Linked DNA regions of Homo sapiens: region 1 is linked to region 2. The links come from fine-mapping of genetic effects on plasma protein levels. A gene starts in region 2. The other region holds a variant in brackets. All regions are shown on one strand. Distances are between the middles of the regions.

What was found. A credible set is the group of variants that fine-mapping cannot tell apart. PIP is the chance, under the fine-mapping model, that this variant and not a neighbour inherited with it causes the effect. Protein levels are from the aptamer-based SomaScan assay of Sun 2018.
Region 1: its variant is the best candidate, but not a certain one, in a credible set for the plasma level of the MSMB protein (Sun 2018, PIP 0.60).

Annotation. Positions count from the first base shown.
Region 1 is chr10:45,595,375-45,598,286 of GRCh38, forward strand. No RefSeq gene overlaps it. Among named protein-coding and RNA genes, the nearest start is that of MARCHF8, 61 kb to the left of the region's middle. The variant C/T (reference allele first, on the strand shown) is at 1,503.
Region 2 is chr10:46,045,136-46,048,047 of GRCh38, forward strand. MSMB (microseminoprotein beta) reads right to left here and starts at 1,134. Exons shown (of 4, transcript NM_002443.4): 1 at 1,100-1,134. The coding sequence starts at 1,102.

The DNA of each region.
Region 1 (2,912 bases), 450 kb before region 2:
ACGACTTCTTACTTTTAAGTTGTATTTTAATTTTTATGGGGGAATCATCTCTGTGTACATACAGACGTCTAAATATTTGATTCTGCATTCATCTCTTTTTTTTTTTTTTGAGACGGAGTCTCACTCTGTAGCCCAGGCTGGAGTGCAGTGGTACGATCTCGGCTCACTGCAAGCTCCACCTCCTGGGTTCACGCCATTCTCCTGCCTCAGCCTCCCCAGTAGCTGGGACTACAGGCGCCCGCCACCACGCCCGGCTATTTTTTTGTGTTTTTAGTAGAGACGAGGTTTCACCGTGTTAGCCAGGATGGTCTCAATCTCCTGACCTCGTGATCCGCCTGCCTCTGCCTGCCAAAGTGCTGGGAATACAGGCATGAGCCACTGCACCGGGCCAGACTCTGCATTCATCTTTTGTCCACATAAAACTCTCATTATTCCTCTGTCACTTTCATCACTGTCTACCAAATCCAATTTTCCTACATCAAACTTCCCAGAAATAGTTTCAACCACTGCCAGTTTTATTTCTCCCATAATCATGCATAAAAGATGAATAATTTGTATTTCTTAGTAAATTCATGAGTGAATTATAAGCAAATCCTCTCAAATATTCCATAGTTGTTCTGTTGTCCCGGAGTGATCTATCATATAGCTAATCAATTCCTCCCTACAATTCTGACCACTTTGAATTTTTGGCTAAGTAAAAAGCAGATTGTCAGGTTCAAAACAGTGTGCTCAAGATATCCTCTGGATCAGCAAGGTCAAAACATCTCCATTTCTATAACACACTTACAATACAGTATTACAAAGAGCAGAAAAATGATGAATTTTCTCCATTTGTCTTTTACTGTGGAAAATAGGTTATCAAGGCCAGTTGCCACAACCTGGTTGGCTCTACTGCTTCTGGCAGCAGGTGTTCCATGAAGGTAGTACCAATATCTTCCATTGGTATAGCTTATGCCTAGACCAGGCTTGTTGAGCCAAAGGGTTGGCTGACTGATGAATGGATATGGAATCCTGTCATCCTTCTACAGGAAGCGGCAGAACCTTCGTAGTTCAACAGGGATCTGTGAGCTATGCAGGGCTGATAAGCAGCACTCATGGAGACAAAGCTAGGGTGAGTCCTGGCGCAACCATTACTGTCTAGGCAATTTCCTTAACCTTTCCGAGCCTCTCTTCAGCTTTCTGAAAGATATCTACTGAATAGAGTGGTTATGAGACAAAATGAGGTAATGCCTGTATAACACTTTTAAGTGCCCAATACATACAGTGTTGGGTAAATGTTAACCAATATGGTCTTTGGCGACGGGGTATTAGTATAGGAGGTCAGAGTCCTGAGGGAAAGGGAGCTGACAACTTGAACGTGTCCAGGTCCTGGGTCCAGATTCTTGCCACCTGGAGTGTAGTTCAAGAAGGGATTGCCAGCCAGGCGTGGTGGCTCACGTCTGTAATACTAGCACTTTGGGAGGCCGAGGCAGGCAGATCACCTGAGCTCAGGAGTTCAAGAC[C/T]GGCCTGGCCAACGTGGCCTAGCCAACATGAAACCTCCTCTCTACTAAAAATACAAAAATTAGCCAGGCATGGTGGCGGGTATCTGTAATCCCAGCTACTCGGGAGGCTGAGACAGGATAATCACTTGAACCTAGGAGGCAGATGCTGCAGTGAGCCAAGATCATGCCACTGCACTCCAGCCTAGGTGACAGAGTGAGACTCCATCTCCAAAAAAAAAAAAGGGGGGGGCGGATTGCCAGCAAGGAAACAAAGCACAATTGGGAAGAAACTGTTGCACTCAGAATGTAAGGCAGCCAGTAAGGGAATTGCTCATAGGGCACCAGGTGCTCACTCCAAGAGGCATACTGGCCTTGTGGCAACAGCTTAATTCCAAATCCTCCCTGCTTGTGTTAATGGGGACTCCTAATACACTGCCTTTCCTTTGCCTTAGCCCACATAGGGAAATTACCTACCCTCTCCTACAGTTTGTGGGACATGAAGACATAAGAAAGAATTCAGGCTTGAGCCAAGTGATCAGTGTTATCTCCAGAACCAGTCACACTGACTCCCTACCAAATGGTTAAATACATCAACCCATCAACCATGTTCTAGTTTTGTTGTTGTTGTTGTTGTTGTTGTTTGAGACGAGTTTTGCTTGTGTTGCCAAGGCTGGAGAGCAATGATGCGATCTCAGCTCACTGCAACCTCCACCTATCTGGTTCAAGCAATTCTCCCATCTCAGCCTCCTGAGTAGCTGGGATTACAGGCGCCTGCCACCACACCCAGCTAATTTTTGGTATGTTTAGTAGAGACAGGGTTTCACCATGTTGGCCAGGCTGGTCTCGAACTCCTGACCTCAGGTGACCCGCCCGCCTCGGCCTCTCAAAGTGCTGGTGTGCCCGGGGTTGGTTCCTTCTGGTGGGTTCTTGGTCTCACTGACTTCAAGAATGAAGCCACGGACCTCTGCAGTGAGTGTTACAGCTCTTAAAGGTGGCACGGACCCAAAGAGCGAGCAGCAGCAAAATTTATTGTAAAGAGCAAAAGAACAAAGCTTCCACAGTGTGGAAAGGGAGTCGAGCAGGTTGCTTCTGCTGGCTGGGGTGGCCAACTTTTATTCCCTTATTTGTCCCTGCCCACATCCTGATGATTGGTCCATCTTACAGAGCACTGATTGGTCCATTTTACAGAGTGCTTATTGGTGCATTTACAATCCTTTAGCTAGACACAGAAAAGTTCTCCAAGTCTCCACTTGACCCAGGAAGTCCAGCTGGCTTCACCTCTCACTGGGATTACAGGTGTGAGCCACGACGCCCAACCATGTTCTAGTTCTTTAAAGAGTTTCATTGCAAAAAATAAAATGTGTTGGCCAGGCGCAGTTGCTCACGCCTGTAATCCCAGCACTTTGGGAGGCCGAGGTGGGCAGAACACAA
Region 2 (2,912 bases):
AGCAGCCCAGTTCAGTCCCCAGCGTTAGTAAAGAATGTTTTAAGAAAGATCAAGTTTAAGACACAAGAAAAGCCTGCATGGGTTTTTATAAATTTTGAAGCAAAATTCTTTCTTGGCCAGGCACAGTGGTTCACACCAGTAATCCCACCACTTTGGGAGGCTGAGGTGGGCAGATTGCATGAGCCCAGGAGTTCAAGACCAGCCTGGGCAGCATAGCAAAATCCTATCTCTAAAACAAATACAAAAATTAGTCGGGCATGGTGGCACTCGCCTGTGGTCCCAGCTACTTGGGAAGCTGAGATGGGAGGATCACCTGAGCCCAGGAAGGTCCAGGCTGCAGTGAATCATGACTGCACCACTGCACTCCAGCCTGGGCAACAGAGTGAGATCCTGTCTCAAAAACAAACAAATAAACCAACAAACACAGCCCCAAACCCAAGATTTTTCCTTAACACATGATACAGTGAAAAGGGCCTAGGGAAATGGTTCCCAAACTTGAGTATTAAAATGACCTGGGCAGCTTTTTAAATTGATGCTCTGTTCTCACTGCAGCCCAATTAAATCAGAGTGTCGGGGTGGAAGATGGGTGTCAGTGTTCTTCAAAATTCCCCCGGAGTTTCCACTGCACAGCCAAGTTTGGGAGCCCCTGGCAGGGAGAGAGGAATGCCTGGGTTCCTATCTCAGCTCATTCACAGGCTTGCGGTGAGACCCCAGTGGCAGCTTCTTCCCCTCCCCAGGCTCAGTTCCCTCATCTCAAAAACGATGCAGTCATGTAGCTCTGAAATTATTTTTAATTTCAAATTACTCACATAGGACCCAAGAATTAGAGACACTTATGAAATCTAATTGAACCCCAGAATTACTGGAAGGAAAAACAACTTAGATCTTAGAGAACAGAACTAGTGCTAAACTCATTACAATTTTCGCAAGCTCTCAGACTCTCATACTCTGCACATTGAATTGCAGGTAATAACATAAGGTTCCTAACTAGGTCACATTTACCATTCAATGCTATGTGGTAGAAGCACACGCATATTAAAATAGGAATACATATTCTCTTTTGCTTTTCTAGCCTTTATATATAAAACCAGTTACCTACCATTGTGATAAGCAGGACTCCTTATAGACAGGTACATCCAGGCAAAGCTGCATCAAACTTTTATACTGGAGAGGGCAACCACGCATTCGACATCATTGGGAATGATAACAAGGTGAGAACACATTGAGTGTTTACAGAGGGTTGACTATCAAAAGGAAAGTATGGTTTCAGATGATTTATGAGTTATTAATCAATCACATCTCCACCCAAGTTATGTGTTTACCTTGTCCCCACCCCGATCTGCATTTGCTGCTGACCTAAAAGAGCAGAGGAGGAGAGAACTTCTCTTTGCTGAGCCTTCGCCCTATGCTGGTGGATTGCTAGCACGTGATGTGTCCTTATTCGATTTTATACACAAAGAAACAGCCTCAGCGATGCCAGTCACAACAGCCAGGTGGTAAAGGTGGGTTTCCTGAAGGCATAAGAATAGCCCACAGGTCAGCCCACCAGGCCCACCGGGCCTGGGTCTGTGGCCCAGATGACCCTGCCCTTAGGGTCTGACATGAGAACAGAAATGGGTCAAGCCATCCTGCAGGGCACAGGAGAGCAAGAACTACATACAGCTCGGGGTTCCCTGACAAGCTGAATTGCTGGACCTTTCTAGAGCCCTTCTTGAATCTGTAGTCTACTCCCTGCTGCATCAAGCAAGCCTTGTTTCTCTTTGTTCCACAGTGGTCTCCTCCCAAACAACCGCACCTGCCCTCATCATGGCTAGGATGGCCTTTGGGGAATGGCAACAAGCAGAACCTCCTAGGGTGCTGGAGGGACTTACTACTTTATCTGTTTGCTCTGCCACCACAACAAAACACTGCAACTGGGTGGCTTTGACTAAAGAAATTTATTTGCTCACAGTTCTGGAGACTAGAAATGTGAGGTCAAGCCATTGGGGAAGGCTTGTTTTCCTCTGAGCCCTCTCTCTTTGGTTTGCAGATGGCCATGCTCTTGCTGCCTCTTACATGGCATGCATCCCTGGCATCTCTCTCTGTGTCCAAATTTCCTCTTCTGATAAGGACACTAGCTGTATTGGATTAGGGTCCACTCTAACTATCTCATTTTACCTAAGCCACCTCTTTAAAGGCCGTGTCTCCATTACAGTCACATTCTGGGATATTGGGGGTTAGGGCTTAAACCAATGAATTTTTAGGGGATGCAATTGAGCTCATAAGACAATTTTATCCCAAAAAGTCCCCTCACTCCTCGCCACAGCTTGCTACAGTTCCTAAAATTTAACCTGAGATCCCTCTGCCCACAGATGAGAGTTCATGCTCCTAACCAGGGGATCCTTGAAGCTCATCTGAGCTGGCCACAGTGGCCCTTTCCAGCACCATCCTCTACCCTCCCTAAAATCAGCCTCACCACCCCTAACACAGCTTGAGGTCACTCTCCTGCTCCTTAGAAGAGCTGTAGTGCTGTCTGGCTGCCTCCTCACTCACCAACGGTGCCACACACTTCTGCCTTTACCTGCATAAGTTAAGTGTTCATCGACTCTAAGTTCCAGGAAATCGGGGCACATTCATCATGCACTGTAGCCCCTTGGATTCTTTTAAAACTCCAAGTTTGAAGAACTTCCCACAGTGTGAAGTGGGAAGTTCTGCCTTACATTGAGAGGAACTAGGATTTGCTGCCCTCACCTGCTTACCTCCAGGGTACAGGCACAAACCTCGGCTCCACAAACACTCTCCTCTCAAAAAGTCCTCTTCAGAGAGGGTCCAAGGACACTGGCATCATGCAGAATCTCCCTAGGAATGATGGTGTGGAGGGTTCTGGCTCTTAGGGCAAGGGTTTCTTGGAGTCCAGTGTGCAGTGTCAGTGC